Homo sapiens: one gene and its partners. The protein of the gene in region 3 interacts with the protein of the main gene of each other region in a pairwise test. Each region holds a gene or a part of one and is shown on either strand. Other genes may lie near its edges.

What was found.
Region 1: the proteins of TBX15 (region 3) and POLE2 interact in binary tests that used the Homo sapiens proteins (3 or more experiments, as listed by UniProt).
Region 2: the proteins of TBX15 (region 3) and VGLL3 interact in binary tests that used the Homo sapiens proteins (3 or more experiments, as listed by UniProt).

Annotation. Positions count from the first base shown.
Region 1 is NC_000014.9:49,685,120-49,692,583, forward strand, and holds the start of POLE2 (DNA polymerase epsilon subunit 2), read right to left. Parts: upstream 3,096-7,464; 5' UTR 3,085-3,095; coding exon 3,017-3,084; intron 1-3,016. UniProt on the Homo sapiens protein: Accessory component of the DNA polymerase epsilon complex. Participates in DNA repair and in chromosomal DNA replication.
Region 2 is NC_000003.12:86,981,127-86,988,238, forward strand, and holds part of VGLL3 (transcription cofactor vestigial-like protein 3), read right to left. Parts: intron 1-7,112. UniProt on the Homo sapiens protein: May act as a specific coactivator for the mammalian TEFs.
Region 3 is NC_000001.11:118,929,307-118,936,418, forward strand, and holds part of TBX15 (T-box transcription factor TBX15), read right to left. Parts: intron 2,527-7,112; coding exon 2,313-2,526; intron 1-2,312. UniProt on the Homo sapiens protein: Probable transcriptional regulator involved in the development of the skeleton of the limb, vertebral column and head. Acts by controlling the number of mesenchymal precursor cells and chondrocytes.

The DNA of each region.
Region 1 (7,464 bases), on a different chromosome or scaffold from region 3:
TGCTGATTACAATATTAAACAATTAGCTAATTACATGCCATTCTGTATTTGTAGCACACAATTTAACATTTCACATATTATTGTTATAGCCATAACACTAATTGTTCTATATATTGGGTTGCTTTATTAGTTGTTTTGTGTGTAGGTGTTGCATCTCTCAAATTTATTATAGATAACTGAGAACTGAATTATAGATAACTTTAAAACTGTAACTTAGAACTCTGTGCCATCCTTCCACAGAGTTCTAAATACACTTGAAGGTGGTCCATAAATATTTGACCACTGAGTCCCTAAAATCATATACATTTTGGTTGCATCTTGGGACAGTTCTTAGCATAGACCAAAGCCTGTAAAGCCATACAGAATCTTGCCCCTGCCAAATCCCATTAAGCTCATACCATGTCCCTGGCCTTCCTGGCACTCTCCTGCTTTAGGGTCTTTATATGGCCATTTCCTCCCACTCTTCTCTCCACCTAGTCAGGTCCTGTTCTTTCTTTTTTTTCTTTCTTTCTTTTTTGAGATGGAGTCTCGCTCTCTTACCCAGGCTGAAGTGCAGTGGCGTAATCTTGGCTCACTGCAACCTTCACCTCCCGGGTTCAAGCGATTCTCTTGCCTCAGCCTCCTGAGTAGCTGGGGTTACAGGTGCACATCACCACGTCTGGCTGGTTGGTTTTTTTTTTTGTATTTTTAGTAGAGACAGGGTTTCATCATGTTGGTCAGGCCGGTCTCGAATTCCTGACCTCGTGATCCGCCCACCTCAGCCTCCCAAAGTGCTGGGATTACAGGCGTGAGCCACTGCGCCCAGCCAAGTCCTGCTCATTCTTTAAGTCAGCCCAAACCACTTCTGCAGTGAAGTTCTTCCTTGACTCTAGGGCAGTTTATACACCTTATCATAAACTCTCATAGCCCTTCTTTCCTGGAATCCCTTTCACAATTGAGATTAAATAGCTGTAAAATAGTCATTTAATATCCATGGTAGACAGACTTCTAAGATGGCCCCTAATAATCCATTACTCCTGGTAGTTACACCTATGTAATCCCCTGCCCTTAAGTGTGGGCTGGACCTAGTAACTTGTTTCTAAAAATAGAATATAGCAAAAGGGATAGAATAACTTACTGTATTATAATTTTGAAAGTAAAATTTAAAAGTAAAAAAAATTTAAAAATAACAAGATGTCACCTCCTTGATTAGGTTGCCTCAGAGTTACTAGAAGACTCTCTCTCTTGATGAAGCCATGTTGGGGGCACACATGGCAAGGGACTGAGGATAGCCTCCAGCCAACAGCCTGCCAGGCAATCAGGAACTGAATCCTGCCAACAACTGAATGAGCTTGAAGCGAATGCTGTCTGGACAACATTTGAGATGATCCATCTTGACTGCAACCTTGTGAAAAGACCCTGAAGTTGAGGACCCAACTAAGCCACACCTGAATTCCTAACCCACAGAAAATTTGAGATAATGTGTACTGTTTTAGCCTTTAAATTGTGGGGTAATTTGTCACGCAGCAATAGAATACATTATCTGCCCCCTACAAAGCTCTTGCTCTCTATTGCACCCCCTTACCCCAGCACGGTGCTTTGCAGCTAACAGATTTAAGTATACTTATGACTGAAATAATTAATGAACAAAAGCTTAATATTAGGTCAAATTCTAAGCGAAAAGAAAGTTAATTCATCAGTTCCTCATGCTTTCAAAATGTCAAGGACCAATTGAACAAAATTCATTATTTTCTCCCAAGGCATCTCCCAAAGCACAGTTAAAAGTCCCATAAAACTCACAAAACCAACCAAAAATCTACACACACAAAAGCAATAAAAACTGATACAGAGAGGTATATCCAATCCAGCAGGTATTTCAATATGTATAAAATATTGTGTTCTAGGTCAGGCGCAGTGGTTCACGCCTGTAATTCCAGCATTCTGGGAGGCCACGGCGCGAGGACTACTTGAGCCCAGGAGTTCAAGACCAGCCTGGGCAACATAGCCAGACCCCGTCTCTAAAAAACATACAACAACAAAAAATCAGCCAGGTATGGTGGCCCATGCCTGCAGTCCCAGCTACTTCAGCCCAGGAGGTTGAGGCTGCAGTAAGTCAAGTTCGCATCACTGCCCTCCAGCTTGGGCGAGAGTGAGACCATGACTCAAAAAAAAAAAAATACATATATATATATACACACACACCACACACACACACACACACACACACACACACACACACGTACATATAGAACTCTAAAACACGGAGCAGATTTAATGAGAGAAATCTTGGGAAGGTTCATATGTTCTATAGGTCCTCAAAAACACGGATATGCCCAGGAAACCTGACTTTCACATAAATTGGCAACTGCAGACGTGCAAGTGGGCTTTCTCGGGTCTCTCATCTTATGTCTCAGCAACCTTCCCGGGAGCCTGAGAGCTGTCCAGGTCACAATGTTGATAACCGGCTGCCATAGATAGGTTGCAGCTTCTCGGGCTCAGTTTGACATGTGCAGAAGAGCCTCGGCCCGCCTAGAAGAAACATTAAACTCCTCGCATGGGTCGGGGAAACCAAAGAAGGCACGGCAGCCTCAAGATCCACCTCGCTTCTTAGAACTTTTTTTTAATGGAGTCTCTCTCTGTCGCCAGGATGGAGTAGAGTGGCACGATATCGGCTCACCGCAACCTCCTCCTCCCGGGTTCAAGCGATTCTCCTGCCTCAGCCTCCCAACTAACTGGGACTACAAGCGCGCGCCACCACGCCCAGCTAATTTTTGTATTTTTAGTAGAGACGGGGCTTCACCATGTTGGCCAGGATGGTCTCGATCTCCTGACCTCGTGATCCGCCCGCCTCGACCTCCCAAAGTGCTGGGATTACAAGCGTGAGCCACCGCGCCCGACCGCTTCTTAGAACTCTGAAATTTAAGGTCAAGCCCCCTCTCGGCGCGCGGGGAGCCGCCGCGGTGCGTCCCGCTGCCGCACCAGGCAGACGGGCCCCAGCTCTTCCCTCTCGCCCTTCAAGCTGCCCGAGCCCACTCACCCACGGAGCAGCAAGCCCCGCAACTTGAAGGCGGAGAGCGCCCGGCTCCGCAGCCGCTCCGGCGCCATATTTGCGATTTGGCGCCACCGCCGCAGCTCCGCCCCTTCCCGGGCGCGCCCCTCCCAGCTCCGGCCTCGGCCCTGGCCCGCGTGGCGCTAAACCCTGTTAAGATCCCTGCTTGGTCTCCGCTGCCTGCGCCGCAGCAACTCAGACCTTACAGTTCGCAACCCCGGACCGAGTAGGCTGAAAGTGGAGACCACCTCGCGCTCCTTTGCTGCCGGGAAACTGAGGGCCAGAGCGTCTTCCCTGGTGTCGGGCTGCGTTGAGCCAGCCACAGCGCTCTCACCGCTGCCCTAGACATTGCAGGACTGCGGCCGAGCTTCCCGGACACAGGATCCCCCTTCTTTCGAGGCCATGAGAGCTGTTGGGTTCCCTACTTCGCACAAGCTCTGGAAATACTGTGCCTCGACATTTACCGGAAGCTGTTATAAATCTCCATCGCTCCCACCTACCCCGATTTTTATTTAACTTGAGGGCTTCGTATGCGCCATGCACTGTCATAAGCACTTTAAATGTGTGAATTCATGTGTTGCTCATGACAGCCCAGTGAGCTGTCTACTGTCTTTTCCACAACAGCCTCATTTTACAGATGAGAAAACTGAGACACAAAAATGGTAAAGGACTTGCTCAAGATGAAACGACGAGTTAAATGGTGTAGTCAGGATTTGAACTCAGTTATTCTGATTTCAGGTGGACTGTCAATCTGCCACACTTCAAAACGCTTGCTCCAATGAGTTGACTAACCCGTGGAGTGCTTATAAGTAAACACGCGGCTTATAAAACAGGAGGATGATTTCACAGTACCAATATAAAGTGACCTCCAACGTATACGGGTTTTTTTCTTTTTTAAAAAAAAGCGAAGTTTAATGAAGGAAGGGAAACAAAAGTATATGTATTTGTTTTTGCATTTTAAAAACCTCTGGGCCCGGGCGCGGTGGCTCACATCTGTAATCCCAGAACTTTGGGAGGCCGATGCTGGCAGATCACTTGAGGCCAAGAGTTCGAGAACAGCCGGGCCAACATGGTGAAACCCCGTCTCTACCAAAAAAAAAAAAAAAAAAAAAAAATTAGCCAGGCGTGGTGGCGCGCGCCTGTAATCCCAGCTCCTGGGGAGGTTGAGGCAGGAGAATCTCTTGAGCCTCGGAGGCGGAGGGTGCAGTGAGCCGAGATCGTGCCACCACTCCAGCCTGGGCAACAAAGCAAGGCTCTGTCTCAAAAACAAAAAAAGCCGGGCGCAGTGGTTCACGCCTGTAATCCCAGCACTTTGGGAGGCCGAGGTGGGCGGATCATCTGAGGTCAGGAGTTCGAGACCAGCCTGACCAACATGGAGAAACCCCGTCTCTACAAAAATACAAAAAAATTAGCCAGGCATGGTGGCGCATGCCTGTAATCCCAGCTACTCGGGAGGCTGAGGCAGGAGAATTGTCTGAACCCGGGAGACAGAGGTTGCGGTGAGCCGAGATGGGGCCATTACACTCCAGCCTAGGCAACAAGAGTGAGACTCTGTCTCAAAACAACAGCAACAACAACAACAAAACAACTCTGGAAGGTTAAATCAGAGACCACAAAAATGGTTAACTACAAAGGGGTGAGGGGATAGGGATGAAAGTGAAAACTTTCTTTACAGTGAGACTTTTAATCCATGTGCATGTTTTACATATTCAAAAAATAGAAAATAAAAAGGTGAGCTTAAAATTGAATGCATACTAAAACTAATACACCTAATTGTATATTAAATTGGTAACATAACATCACAAGTGATTTTTGAACACAGTTCTCTTTATTTAGTGAAATATTTTTCAAAGACAAAAAGTACAAAGAAATTTTTAATTTTTATGTAAGAAAGGATAGGAAATACGAATAGAAAGACATATAGTTAATTCTCATTACTGTACCTGTGATAGTTAGATTTTATAAGTAGCCACCAACAAATAATTATTGAATACTAAACCATTCCTACTAGGGGAAGTACAGAATTAGGTTCCTGTGAGCCTCTGGTGACAATGTTTTCATCAACTGATCAACATATAACCTTGTTTTGTTTTTTTTTTTTTTTTTTTTTTGAGACGGAGTTTCGCTCTGTCGCCCAGGCTGGAGTGCAGTGGCGCGATCTCGACTCACTGCAAGCTCCGCCTCCCGGGTTCACGCCATTCTCCTGCCTCAGCCTCCCGTGTAGCTGGGACTACAGGCGCGCGCCACCATGCCCGGCTAATTTTTGTATTTTTAGTAGAGACGGGGTTTCACCGTGTTAGCCAGGATGGTCTCGATCTCCTGACCTCGTGATCCCCCCGTCTCGGCCTCCCAAAGTGCTGGGATTACAGGCGTGAGCCACCGCGCCCGGCCTATAACCTTGTTTTATGTGTGTTTTTATGTAAAGACATCTTTACATTGTGATTCGTTAACACTGAACTCAGGGCCAAGAGCCCTATAACTCATAGCTGAAGGAAGCTTATTTATCACATGTATTTTCTCCATAAGGCACTCCCACTCTCAAATAATTCAACAAAATGAAAAAGACAGACACACACATACCAACAAACATAAAGCTAGTATGGTAGTATTAATAATTATTAACCTGGAGTGGAAGATACACAGGTACTCTTTGAACTATTTTTTCAACTTTTTTTGGTTTGCTACTTTTTATATTAAGAAATTGGAGAGAAAATAATCAATTCCAGTTGCCCAGCTTTCTCTCACAATCTGACCTCACAATTCCCCTTTTCCCATAAATGTTCCCAATCATAATTCTCTTTCTCTAATAAATTTTCAACTTCTTCTATGGCTCCTTCACCTGGCCAGCTCATAAAGTCCCAATACTTAAATGAACAATTATATGCTGATGACTCCAAAATCCCTATCTCTAGCCCTTAGCTCTCTTAGACTTCAAATCCAACTCAATATGCCTCCAAATGAACTCACCATTAGCCCTGCCCTCCCCCAAACCTGTTCCTCCTCCCATGTTCAATAACCTAGCGAAGGGCTCCACCCACCTCCCACCCAGTGACCAAGCTGGTAAACTAGGCATATCCTTGACTCTTCCCTCTCACGAATGAAAGTTCCTTGAACAACTTCCGTTCATCATTCAGTTCTTAACTTAGACTTTACTTTCTCTCAGGAACCTTCCCTGTCTTCCCTCAATCTGAGTTAAAGGGCCTCTGTACACCCAAGGTGCCCTGGACTTTTGCTATTTTCACACTTACTGCACGGTATGGTAATTGTCTGTTTGCTGGTCTATAGACTCCACCAGACTCTACAGTCCAGGAGGACAAATGCTCCATTTCAAAAATACAATACCAATATTACTAGTAACAATAAAGTGATGGAGTGAGAATTATGATTGACATATAGTTTACACTAAGTAAAATGCACATATCTGTATGCAGTTCAATGCATTTTGATAAATGTATACACCCATGTAACCACCACCTCAATCAAGATACAGAACATTTTAATCACTCCAGAACACTTCCTGTACTCCTTTCCATCAGTCCCCTCCCCCTCCCTACTCCCAAATGACCACTTTTCTGCTTTCTATTATCATAGATCACTTTTGTCTATCTTGAATTTCTTCCTTCCTTCCTCCCTTCCTCCCTCCCTCCCTTCTTCCTTCCCTCCCTTCCTCCTTTTTCTTTCTTTCTCTCTCCCTTTCCCTCTCTCTCTCTTTCTCTCTTTCTTTCTAAGGAACCTTGCTCTGTCGCCCAGACCGGAGTGCAGTGGCGCGATCTCGGTTCACTGCAACCTCCACCTCCCGGGTTAAAGCGATTCTCTTGCCTTTGTAGCTGGGATTACAGGCATGCGCCACCACGCCCGGCTAATTTTTGTATTTTTAGTAGAGACGGGATTGCCCAGGTTGGCCAGGCTGGTCTCAAACTCCTGAGCTCAAGTGATCCGCCTACCTCATCCTCCCAAAGTGCTTAGATGAGAGGCGTGAGCCACTGCAATCCAGTTACATTTGTAAAGTTAAATATGCATTTATCCTCTGACCCAGCAATTCCACATCTAGAACTCTACTCCAAAGATAGGCTTGTACAAATACAAAATAACATATGCATAACGTTTCATCGCAGCATTATTTATGATAGCCAAAAAAACCTGGAAATAACCGATATGTCCATCAATAAGAATCTGTTTGAATAAGCTATGACACATCCAATCGGTGGAGTGCTATGAAGCTATGAAAAGGACTGAGGAGACTGCTTGCTGTATCCTGATATGGATCGTCAAGTGAAAAGAGAAAGTTAAGGAACACTGTATATACTTCCTTTTGTGTAAGAAAAGGAGCAGATACTCTGTTTATTTGTATAGTCAAAAATAAACAATAGAAAGTATCATTAAAGTGCACCAGACTTAAGTGCCTTCTAATGTGATGCAATATGAAGTATTTTCCA
Region 2 (7,112 bases), on a different chromosome or scaffold from region 3:
ATGTAAAGGATTTGAAGGCCATGAATCCTGATACAAACGTCAAATAGTATTCTTATCAATAGTAGCAATCATAAAATATCAATTTTAAAATCGATATTTTAAAATCCATTAAACTATTGTATTTAAACTATAGAATTTCAATTGATTTAAGATTTCACAGTTTTCTAAATGCTTCATAATATTGTGTTACTTTTCCTACCAATTTTTCAATGGTTGGATAGAAATAAACTAACCTAAAAATTATATTTTTCAATATGCAATGGGAAATAGTAAGCAAAAGCTGCCCCTGCATTAAAATATCTGTCATCAGTTTATTTTAGAAAAAGAATTCTCTCATTGTATGTATTCTTTATATTCTTTTTATTTCATATATGTAATATATCTATATTTACATAAATATGTATACTGAAATATTCCTTTTTGATATAGCAAATATATATGGTTCTTTAAAATATTTATACTGATTCCTCTAATTAAATAAAATTTTTTGTAATGATTATATACTTTCTTTTTTCTTTTTATCTCTCTCGATTCTTTTACTAATTAAATAAATTTGCTAGAAAACTATCAAACAAATAAAATGAAAAAAGCTTCTATCTACCCATAGGCAGGACACAAGAATGTCTACCGTTGCCACTTGCAATTTTTTTTCAGATAAAGTTAGGTTAATTTTCACAGATTATAATGAACCAATTTAAATATTTACGTTTACAACACACACAAGCACACACACACTCACATACACAGACATAGCCTCACAATCAACAGTACTGGTTAAAATAAGAATCTCAAAGTATCCAAATGGCCTGATAACTCACTAATGTGCCAAGGTTGAATTTGCATACTTGTTTTTAACATTAAGTGCGATCATGAGGAAAACAGAAATACAGCATTTAAACAGCAATGGATTCAAATGCTGCCTTTCATCCCATCTTAATTTCATTCTCCATAGACTCTGGTGCCTCAACTACTTTCTAATGTCTGTGTTCTGTTGACTGTAAATCAATTTATTGCTTTTTTTAATTTTTATTTTTTGAGATGGACTTTTGCTCTTGTTGCCCAGGCTGGAGTGCAATGGTGTGATCTTGGCTCACTGCAACCTCCGCCTCCCAGGTTCAAGTGATTCTCCTGCCTCAGCCTCCCTAGAAGCTGGGATTACAGGTGCCTGCCACGATGCCCAGCTAATTTTTTGTATTTTTCGTAGAGACGGGGTTTCACTATGTTGGCCAGGCTGCTCTCAAACTCCTGACCTCAGGTGATTTACCCGCCTCAGCCTCCCAAAGTGCTGGGATTACAGGCATGAGCCACTGCGTCCAGCTCTGCTTTTTTTTTTTTTTTAACTAAGTATTTTGCTCATAAGCACTTCTGCCACATTCTGTATTCACTTGGTGTTTGCTCCTTCAGTGAAATTTTCCTGGTGTTACATTCTTTCTTGGGAATAATATATAAAATTCAAAACATCGAGACTAAATATCAAATCATCAGAACCAAGATTTCCTGATTGAAGGTCACAATGTAATCTAATTGGTATTTTTCTCAAAATGCACAATCACTTCCTAAAAATATCCAGATTTCTCAGAAATATTTATGTTTTTCTTCGAAGACCCTGCAGAAATTTTAACAAAAATAAAGTCATCTAAAGGGATTTTAAAGACTACAAGTTGTTGTTTTTCTTAAATGCACATTTATGTCTCTTCACCACTACATAGTTATGACAATTTTTCCCTCGGTAAAATGACTCTGGAGTAAGATGAAACAATAAATGGGTTAATAGTTATAAAGTTAAAGCTAACTCACAAAGAGGTTAAAGTATCAATGTGGAGAGTTCGCTTGGGCAGTACAGACCATATCCAACCACCACACTGCTTGCCATTAGGCACAACAGCAACAAATTTTTCAGCAGGAATGTGCAGGGGAAGGATTTGTCTGACAAGAGAAAGACTTCCATGTCAGGAGCCAAATACCACTAACTCCCCAAGGCTTAAGCCTACAAAATGCCAAATGATTACCGTGCATATGTGGAAACTTTTTTTCCTAGGGAAACAAAAGTATTTTAATGAATCACTGGAGTCTTTGGATATTTAGAAACAGATTTAAAAATAAAATCTACTGGCTATCTTTTTAAAATACAATGATTCTTTCATATTCAAAAACATGATTGGAGCTATAAGAAGAAATCACTATCCCAGGGTAAATATTTCAAAATCATAGAGGACATAAAAGCAGCACATTACTCTGTGACCATATATATTTTTTTTCTTTTGAGACAGGTTCTCGCTCTCATTTGCACTCATTGCACTCATTGCCCAGGCTGGAGTGCAATGGCGTGACCACGGCTCACTGCAGCCTCCACCTCTCAGGCTCAAATGATTATCTCACTTCAACTGGGACTACAGGTGTGTGCCACCATGCTGGCCTTATTTTTTATTCTAATTTTTTTGTAGTGACAGGATCTCACTATGTTGCCAGGGTTGGTCTCCAACTCCCGGCCTTAAGTGATCCTCCTGCCTCAGCCTCCCAGAAGTGTTGGGATTACAGGCATGAGCCACCGTGCCTGGCCACATATTTCCTAATTTACTTGGATAACAGATTTTGGTTCTTAGTCTATTTGGAGAAGGATAGGTCAAGTTATATGAGGTTGGGTCAAGTTAAGGAACATATATCACAAATCTTTTGTATATTTCATTTCACATAACTGTCCTCTCACATACACATATTTTGTCAGAATAAGTATTCCCAAGTAATAAGTTAATATGCAAATTACTGGGTCAGGATGGCCTAACTATAATGGTAAGTGGCAGAGATGGGATTAGAACCTATTTCTGTCTGTTTACAAAGCATGTACCCAGAAAATAGACTAAAGAAAATGTGTCTCTACGATATTTATTTTAACTGAATAAACAGACAAACAGAAAACATCAGTCAGCATGGCATCACATGCTAACTAGGACAGTCTAAAATTCATGACATTAAAAAGTTAGAGATTAAACAATGTCATGCTTTTAAAAACATATATAATTCTAGGTGAAATTGAACTTCTATGTCTAAGAACATATTATCTCCTTGACAAATCAGATACATAAAACAATTGTCTACAATTTTTCTGAAAATCTTATTTTGGAAATTTGACCAGTCAGTCTGTGAGACAAAATCACACCTCAGGATTCTGTGTTTGTTTCTCTGTTTTTGTTAACAGTAGGGAGGAGCCAACCGAAAATAATATAACTTAACAGGATGAGTTACTTTTGAGTGCATTTGCCTCTAAATGATTCTTGACATTATCAAAAAATCAAACCTAACCCCTCCAAGGAAGAAAAATTGCCAGTTTTGATGATGTTCAAAAAAATGTGCCACAGGCTTAGAGGCGATTTCAAAATTTACATTCCCAAAATGTTTTAAGCAATGATCATATCATGAGGGTATGTGTTCTCTCTCAAACCAACTACTTTGAAGGAGACAACAGTTTCCAACATATAAATTTCTAGTTAGTTTGTATAATTCTATTACTAGACTTAGGGTATAATTTCATTTTTAAGGTAATTTATCCATTATTCATTAATTTATCTAGTTGTCAATTAATACCTACCTTGTGTCAGAAATTATGCAAAGACTTGGAGTCACAAAGATGAAAGTCATAGCCTGTTCCTAAACTCAAACTTCTCATAGTTAATTGGAAGAGTATAGTAAGGGCAATAATAAATAAAGAGAGCCTCATGGTTTATTTATATGGCTGATGGCATTATAATCTCTAAGTGGCTAATATTCCAAAATTTAAAAGTAAGAAAATTCAAAAGATAACATAGGTTAATTACTAACTGTTTTCTTGTTTCTAAAGCAGCACAGATGGGAAGGGAATTCAATAAAAAAGAACTGAAATGGGAAAGAAGATTTGACCGAAACTATTTCCATGAGTCTGAGCAAGCCACTGAAGCTTCTGGCCCTTAGCTTCCTCTTTTGAAAACAAGAAACTTTGATTTGATTGTCTCAGAGGTCTCTCATCCAACTCTATATCTTAATAAGCAACATGCTGGAGCTCTAGACAAATTCACACTTAATTTTCTTTCTTACATTGGCTGCCTCTTCTGATATTTAGCCAAAAAAACCCTACAGATCATTGAAGAACAATTTATTTTCAGACATGGGTCATCTAGCCCAATTCCTAGGAATTAGTTATGGCACTTCGTTTATCTGTCTTCATATTAACAAGAAAGGATAGACTTTTAGAGTCCCCCTACTGCATCCTCCAATGACAAGTGTTTTGGCATACTGAAATCATTTGGTTTTAAGGAGAAATGACACCTGTTGAATTTAAGTCATTCTTCTTTTCTTCTTCAACTAAAGAAGGAGACAAGTGAAAAATGGTTCAGTTACCCTAGTTCAGACCACACTTGTAAATTACTGGCGTAAATCTGGTATCCACTGAACTATCAGTAAATATGGATTTATGAGTTGTTCTAGCAGCAGCTGTTTGGGTCTAATGGTTCAAGGCAGTCTTAGGTCTTCCTAAATGAGTAGTCAGAGCAGAAAACCAGCTGCTTAAAGAGATGTGTTTTGAAAGGTTCAGAGCAGAGCTTAGCTCAAAAGTTTTGCTTTCACTGTCCCTGACAGAGCCTCAAATTCAACTCTTAGAGAGCTTTTGCTTCTTGAATAAAAATGTTTTCTTGGAGGTAATACCCTAACATATTATCTATTACAAGATATATTAGTTTTCAGATTTTTAAAAAGTTAGTTGGACACAGAGCCTATGGAAGTGAGAACCAAGCTAAGCACCCAGGTCTTAGAATGACAGTCACCTAGCTTACAAGTTTGCTTTAAGATCTGCCTTAGGCATCATAAGCATAATAGTTTTATTCCCATTGAAAATTCCCTTTGCACAGATAGATATGACAAATATATATATATATACACACACACACGTATACACACACACACATATATACACACACGCACATAGCCCAGCTTCTTCTTCAGTAACCTGAAGAAACAGTGCATAGGAGAACAAGACTTTCCACTCTAAACACCTCTTTTACCATCTTATAGGTCACCTCCTTGCCATCTCCGGCTTTGTGAGATGTGAAATTTTACTAAGGGCTAGATAAGGTAGAACTTCCTTGCATTTAGCCAGAATACCCTTTACATAAATTTCCACAGTGTCACCTTGTCCTGGCATTTTGTTTCTTGGTGAACACATCCTCACTATGCATGATTTTATGGTTCTCAATCTTGCCCTTACCATCATCATTGTAATCTCGATTCTGGTTGACTGCCAGAGATAAGAGTTCAATTATTTTAACATTTAATTTTTCCTCCAGCTTTGAATTTTCTGGCTGGGAAGTTATAGGGAGCATGAAGCTGTGGGGCACTTTAAGTCTCGAAGTCTCTACAGTGAAGTTAATTTGTGTAGTGTGAAGTTATAGGGGCTGTTCTTTCTCAAAGAAGTCCTGTATAAATTTTTATAAATCTACTTAAGTCCTTACTTACAGTTGCAAGAAAAATAGATCCTCTGCCTCAAATAAGTTGTCTGTGAATTGAAACTACTTTGGTTATAACTGTATTCTTTTCTCTTAATGAATCTAAACTTATGTTGGAATAGCAATAATAGATGAGACACTTAACTGCTAATACCACTTCCTGTATTTTATTTTAGATAAATAAATATTCATTTGCTAACTGGATATACTGTTTCATCAACAAGGGTGCAACATGGATAGCATAAGTCATTAGCATAATCCAAATGCTTGCTAACGGCCTTTGGAATGCCTAAACTTAAAAAAGTACACTACCAAGGACTTGGAAAGAATCTCGCACTCCAACGCCAAAGAATCTATTGCATATTAATCTTCATTAGAAAAAAAATTGATTGGGGACCTAAAGACAAAAATAAGCCTATTGTGCAATAGCAAAACATTAAAAAAATTTAAAAAGCTTTAGGAAATTTCATGTCATTGTACAAAGATGCTACACCGGAGAAAGGGGGATCTGGTGATCCTAATTTTGTCACCAGCTTTGAAATCTTTAGCTAGGCATTTCAGCCCTATAAAAATCCATTTTCTCACTTGTAAAAAGAAGAGTTGAAGTTATGTTTTTCCAGGGCTTTTTTCTCTGACAAACCGAATTGCAGAACAATTTTATGACTCAACCAACGTAGCAGAGTCCAGAGAGAGTTTGAAAAAACACCTTACAAAACTTATAACTGAAGTTCTCCCTCCAAGGGCACTTAATTTTTTCAAGTGAAAGCATGCATGCAGATTCATCCAGCTGTTACCCTGGAAGAGGACAGAGTAAATATACTCCATTTTATATGAAGCCCAAAGTGTGATTGTTAAAAATCCCCATGCACAATTAGAAAACCAGTGACTGTTCTCTGTCTCATCTATAAACTGCATAATTCTGAAACCTTTGACAGCATGTGCTGAGAGACTGAGTCAAGGGTTCTCCTGAGGAGTTGTTAGAGACTGACATATTAAAGCCAGAAAGAGATGGTGGGCATGCGAAACAGGTCACCCAGCATCCCTCAGTAATTTTGGCTCTATAAACCCCACTGTAGGATTTATACCCAGCCATGCAATTTCTAGTAATTAATGTCAGGGACAATAAAATGTATACTTTGCACATATTTTAGCTTACTTTGACTTTTTAGCCCACTGTATACCTAAGTAACACACTGCAGTGCAAGCTAATATATATATACAGTTAACTAGGTTTTTAAAATGACATTCACTTATTACCCACCTACAACATGCAATATGTTCAACAAAAACCTAAACTTAAATTTCAGGTGCACATTTGTGCTTATCGGAAAACAGGTGAGAGTACACATGCCTGGATAATGAAGTTCTGTTATTTCCAAAATAATTCTCAATGTTATATGATCATTTGTTAAGAGGAAAAATATACCTGTGTTTAAAATCCATCATAAGGAATCATTTTGATACAGTAATTAATAAGGACTTCAGAGCCATACAGTTTGAGGGGGAAATTAGTTGACAGATACACTACTACAATTGAATACAGAAGTAATATAAAACTTTAATGCTGTCTTTTCTAGCATTTTTTAAATGGCTATTAAAATTTCTTGATTGCTGTTACTTTTCTTCGCTCCTTTTCCATTT
Region 3 (7,112 bases):
ATATAACTAACATAATTAAGAAGATGGAGATTGGAATTAAAATGGAAAAGAATACTGACAATACTGCATAGCAAGAAAAATGAGTGAGAAGCAAGAAATTAACCAGGAGAATGAGAAGGAATGAAGAAAATTCACAGAAGAGAAAGCCTTATTTGTATGATTCAGAGTTGTTTCAGAATTACCTGAGAAGAATTAGATGTAGTAACAACAGTTGAGACAACTGAATACAGAACCAATTAATGTAGTTTCTAAACTTAAACAAAGGATTTCAATTATTACTAAAGAACAAACTATGTGTCTGTCTTGGGGAATGTGTAGAGTATCCAGATATTAAGGTGAACTTGTGAAATCAGGGATATGGAAATGAAAATACTGCAGAAGAATTACAAAATGAGTCACAAGAAGGTTGTCAAGGAGATGCTCAAATGAACTCAATTCACTAAAGCACAGGGAATAACGAAGTGATATCAGGAACAAACATGACTGGAATACAGAGACCCAAGAGTAATAAAGTAAAAACCCAAAAAGAATACCGGAAAATCTTATAGACAAAAAAAAAATGTAATATTTCTTCTCTCTCCAAACCAACTCTTCTACCAAAAACTTTAAAAAAATTTCCTTGAGTTACTTTGTTTTCTTCCAAGCCTTTACACCACAAAATGTGGAACAGAAGTACACTGAGACCCAAGCAACGAAAAAGAGATGATATTGAACACAGTTATCCAGCCCATCTTCTCCCCCTAGGAAGCCTTTAATGGTTTTATTCACTACTGAGAGAAGGAAGAGAGCTCCAGAAAAGAAAGAAAATAAACAAAATTTCAGATTTATTTTAACTTCATGTTTTTGTCATATCTTATTGTTTTGGGAGGTTTCCTTATATACACGTAGATAAACTGGACCCAACCAAAATATTATTTTACTTTAAATGGCTATGTTCATGAAAACAGCTCACAATCAGTAAGATGCGATTTTTGTTCCCCATGACATGTGAGATTATGTACACTGGCTTTGAAAACACAAAAGTAGCATAACTGTTTTGCTTAATTTCAATGAACTATTCCTATATGCTGAAAAGCTTAGTCCAAATGTATTTATTTATTTATTTGTTTGTTTATTTATTTATTTTTGAGACAGAGTCTTGCTCTCTCACCCAGGGTGGAGTGCAACGGCACGATCTTGGCTCACTGCAACCTCCGCCTCCCAGCTTCAAGCGATTCTCCTGCCTCAGCCTCCCAAGTGGCAGGGATTACAGGCACCCATCACCACATCCAGGTAATTTTTGTAACTTTAAAAGAGACAGGGTTTTGCCATGTTGGCCAGGCTTGTCTCGAACTCCTGACCTTAGGTGATCCACCCACCTTGGCCTCCCAAAATGCTGGGATCACAGGCGTGAGCCACCGTGCCCGGCCCAAATTTAATTTTATCTAAATCGTTTCATTTTGAATCCAAGGGGCAAGAACTACAGCCATTTCTTCACAGTTCAGAGTTGAGACCACTGTTTTAGAGCCACACAGATTTATGCAGAATTCTGGAGCTGCCTCTTAGTACCCATGTGCCTTAGCCAAGCTAATTAATGTCTTTCATCCTCTGCATCCTAATCCATATATGGGATGATTATGTCCAACCTCATAGGGTTCCTGTAAGTTTCAAAGATGTATGTTGAGTGTCCAGCACAAAATAAATACTTAACTATGGAAAGTTGAAACATACCAATAAAGGAGTAGCTTAACTAAAAGTGTCTATATCAAGAGAAGCTGTGTTTTTAAAATTTTGTAATCCTAGAAAAACAGTTTTACAAGAAATTCCATAGGTCACCAATAAAGTTGTGTAATAATTTCAAGTCAATGATAAAACACAATGGACATCAACAGGCTCAGAATATGCATCAAGTCAATTCTTTTTTAAAAATTACTACAAAAGCATTGTTGCTTTAAATACTTTAGAAGATGCAAGTTGTTATTTGGGAAGCAAACTTCTTGAAAGTATTTAATGGTGAAGTAAACACTTGCTTTGGAAATATATATTTTGGCTGTTAAGATCCCATGGACTTCCAATATTAGCTGAAATACATTTGTAGGTGGAAAATGTTTGTGATTTACATGACTTACATTTGATTGGCCCTTGGAGGAAAATAATACAATCACAACAAACACAACAGAACAACTTTACCAAGATGTCCAAATGCAGAGAAGTGAGTGCAAGCTGCTTTGGTTTTGTTGATGCCATCACAAATAAATAAGAATGGAAGAATGTAATGGCTCCTACTTCTGCAAATTCTTTGAATCTGGCCACTCAAAGGAATTTGTCCTTACCTGCCTGCTTTGGTGATGATCATTTCAGTTCCAATATCATGGAACCGCTTCCAGAGGTCAGCACATTGCAGCTCCACCTGAATCTCCTCCATGGAAGACATGGCAGCAGGCACAGGGCCTGCAGCACCAGAGGCCAGGTCAGTGTGAGTACTGAAGGAGCAGGAAGTCCGCTCAGTGAGGACCTCAGAATCTGAACCAGTGCTCTGCTCAGAATCTGCAAAATAAACAATCAAGCCTTAGGTGAGAAACTGCTGAGCTCCCCTCACCCATGGCCCTAAAAGATGGGGGTGGGAAATGCAATGAAGTGGGGAGAGGGGTAAACAAAAGGAGACTTAAAGCTGGGAAGCTCCAGAGCACAGCACTCAGGGTATTTTATTATTTTTTATGGTTTGTTTTTGTGATTTATGACCTTCTTTCAGGTTTCGTGTTTCCAACATGACATCTGGCATTTTAGTAAGTTTTAGCAACAGCTGAAGAAAATTGGTCCACAACAGGCAATATAAATAGTACTAATGTCACCATGTTGAAGAGAATGAGGCCAAACTGGGGCAACAAAATAAATGCCATATTAAACTAAAATAATTATAAATTACAGGTCCAAACCTAGATTAGACTATTACATTTGTGCAAGTAAAGATTCAGTGCAAACATTATGTTCTTCAATTCCATACCACTCAGCATCACTGCCTGTCAGTTATTTTTAAACACAGAAATTTTTCCTCTACTTACATAAGCCATGGCCATCAAAAGTAATGAAAAGCTGCTTGGGATCTTTAGAAGTACTTTGTCATATATTTGAGTAAATGGTTTTTCCTAAGAGTCTAATCAGGCCATTTTGGATGGGAAAAAAACCTCTGTTGTGAGTCAAGGATGTAAGCATATGGAAAAAGTTACCCAAAAAGGCAGTTGAAACAAAGGGAATAAATGAGTTCAGGAGACACCTTGATTGGTTTCTGAAGTATGGGCAGAGGGGAGGGGTGATCCAAACAGGAAGGTGGGATTGAGAGCAACCAAATAAAAAGTTGGCATGCTGGTCCAGATGGTCCTTTCCTGTGTCTTCTGTACTCATGAAGACAAGTGGGGCTGGGGGGCAGGGGAAGCTGACTGATGGAGAAGGCTAGAGCCAGATTTACCCGGGAAGATTTACTGGAATTTTAAATATTTACCTTTAGGAGCTTAATGCCAAGAATTGTGTGTCCTAACATTTTTCAAATTCAGATTATCTAGTATAATTTTCTTAGGTCAAATGATGCTGCAAGTCAAGCCTAAGAATCCATTTCTCTAACCCACCCTTAACATCTAGAATTCTGATTGCTTTCCTTGGAGTTAAATATATTCATGAGTAAAGGCTGGAAACAAGTGTTGTACTCTGATGAGTGACTTTTCAATGGTGTCAAGGGTCAGAGCTTCTTGAGCATCAATCCTTGACACTAGTAAGATGGAAAAGAATGGGACAGAATGCCCAATCACGTTGCTGCCAACCTCACTTACCTGCAGCAGGTTTGCAGACCTGTGAAAGATACACCCCATTGTTCCTTTACTTTTCTTTCCTTTTGTCACTGACTTTTTTCTCTTGCAACCCCAGGCAGCATCTCTGGCAAGAATATCTAACAGCTGTGTCAAAGCCACAGGGAATAAAGTGCCCACAGGGGAAAAAGTGTCATTTCTCTCCATCTCCCTAATTCCTCACCTGTCACTTGTGAAGATATTCAGGTTGTTAAAGAACCAAATCAAACTTCTAAATAAAGGGGAAGTTTCTGACCAAAAACTTCAGTTTACCCATAATCACTACATGAAGATGTAGTCACTATCTTCATTCTCCCTCCCCCTCTGCCCCCCACCCACAAAAAAAAAAAACTATAAAGTTTTATAACTAGGTTTTACATGTCTAAGCACATAATTTTATACCTAGGACTAAGTAGCAGCTATTTTTGGTCTTCTCCAAGCACTGAAAAGTAGAACTACTTATCTAAGATGACAGCTGTTGCTGAGTGACAAATCTATATCCTAGCCTGATTCTATAGGCCTTTCAGTAGCAGAGCCATTATATCATCACACACTCAGCCAAACACACTAATTCATGTCCCCTGAGACATGGATTCCCAAATCCTATTTTGTGTCTGGGATATTTTAAGAGCTCCTCACTTATCATGAATACTGTAAATTTTTCAAAAAACCTCCTCAGAAAAAGATTTTTAAAATATATTATTGTCCTGCTTTTGGAAGCAAAAAGTTACAAAATTCACCATAAAGTGCCACAATTACAAAAAATTGGAAAGAGACACCTTAAGTAGGACCCAACAGAAATTTTGGACATATGATTTCTCCAATGTATGTTTAGGAACTGGAAAAGGGAAGGAAAGGTATCACTACACTAAGAGATAAGTATTAATGGTAGCTAAATTGAGGCTGAGATTGGAATTGGGACTACGGCTAGAGAATTATGAAATAAGAGACTCTACCCTTAACTCAGTATGTCATCTGGAACAAAACAGGGACTCAAAATGTAACATCAAATGAATTAATGAATAACCTTAGACAAGCCATTTAACCACAGGGGGGGCCTAGGTCCTCAATGTGCAATGAAAAAGAATGAACTTAAGGATTACACCTCTAATGACCTGAATGTAAGAATCCTCCCCAGTGCAAGTGCTAACCCAGGTAACCTCAATTAGAAACATCAAATTTAAAACTCTTTGAACAAGACAAGTTAAATAAGGGAAAAGACCGGGGGCTCAGATTCACATTACCATAGGAGTTAAATAATTGAGTGGGTATTCTATAAGGGTTTATAGTTTCAATCAAATCAATCAATAAGCACCTATCAGCATATGGCCTTAGATGAAGTACCATGCAGATAATTAGAAACAGAATCCAAGACCTTAAGAAATTTCCCAGTTAGTGTTGATTAATTATGTGTTTATTGAGTGCTTACTATGTGCCCAGCACTGTGCTAGATTCTGGGAAATAACAAAGTACACAATGGGACCTCTCTTCAAGTACAGTACAGTGGAGACTATGAGCATTCAAAAATAATCAGAGAGCAACACAAATAACTGCCACACAGTTTTCCACACCATTACATACTGTCTCAGATGTCTCTTAGAAGTCCAGAAGAGAAAGAGATCCAAGAGGGCTAGAACACTCCTGGGGAACCCATTGTTACTAGAAAGGAAATGGGCAAGTCTGTGGAGGCATAGGCAGTATTTGTCCATGAAGAGGATTTTCAAAGACATTTATTTAACTGGAAATACCCTGAACTTCTAGATTTTCACTCTCTCACAAAACAGGATCCAGTGACTTTTATATAAAGAATGTAAGCAACAGCCCACATGTTCAATAACATGAATGCATATGCAATCTTCTATTCTCAATTGTTTCTTAAATATTATAATCTTGAAATAAAGTTACTGTTACTTTTATAGATGCTCTTTTTAAAAAGCTTCTAGAAGGGTTAGGGCCACCCGTGGGGTAAGCAACCCTACAAAACCCTTAAAATAGTAATCTCAGAGTCAAGATTAACAGCCTAGGTAAAAATAAAATTTAATCTTTTGTAAAATACATTTCTAAATCATAGTTATAGAAAATATTTTGGCTAACCAGATCAAAATTTTTAGCTATTAATTAGGATGTATAATAAAGTTATCTAAGTCATGGAAGAAACACACAGCTGGTTATTTTAATCAAATCAGATCATCCATTTAGAAATATAATCAGTCAGTCCCTTAAAGATCAAAAAACACCTCTGTGTTTTCAAGGTCATTTATTCTTGGCAATTTGTGACTTCCTGTCCTCAAAAAATAGCCATTAGGAACTCATATGAATGATGCAGGATTTCTTGGCTATCAGATACTGTCAGAATAGTATTTCAACAGAAGAAGTTTAAGTAAATCAGGAACATAAAATGTTACATGTAACCAAGGCAGCTAAAGGAGAAAACTTAAGTAACCTGCGCTGAGCCAGTTACAAGTCACTAGAGAACATTTTGTGACTCACAGGGCCAAAGCAACATATCTATTCTCATCCCCCCAAAAAAATCCTTTAAAAAGATATTTTAACCATCATTTTACTTTCTATCTCTGACCTATTTCACTTTGATAAAATGAATGCTGTAACACTAAGTTCCCACAGAAAGTTGAGTTTAGCTTAAAGTACGTTCACTTCTCACTCTAGCAATAATAATAAAAGAACTTTTAATTTATGTTTTACACATTACCTAATATTGTCTTCCCATTGATAAGATAGACATAGCTTGTATTTTTATGTCTATTTTGTGGACAAGGACACTGAAACAAGAGAAATTGAAAACTAACATGTACTAGAATGCACATCTTCTCCATCCTGATCCAATGGTCAGATCTCCCCAAAAGCACACTAGGTTCAACCCAGCCAAAACAGCTGGCAACTCTGTAACACCCCCTAACTATTTTAACCATCCTCACAACTAAGGTGGCTTAAATATGTTTGATCTTGGCCAAGTCACATGACTATTCTGGTCCCCAATTTCCTTAATCCTTATGGCACAGCACATGCACATTTAATTGGAAGTGTATAAGGTCCCTTTTAACTTGAATGTCTAATGGGTGGATTAGTAGTACAGCTTAGAGACCACCAAGTCTAACAAAAGCGAACCAACTACAATAGGTTCATTTGGTTACCATACATAGAAAATGCCTAAATTGCATACACTTTTAGTCTAATAAAAACTTAATATCCAAATTAGACATTTTAAAAGCATATTTTACAGTCTTGGCATCTCCACTTAACAGTTAATTTTGAGGAATTATTCGTTACTGCAGT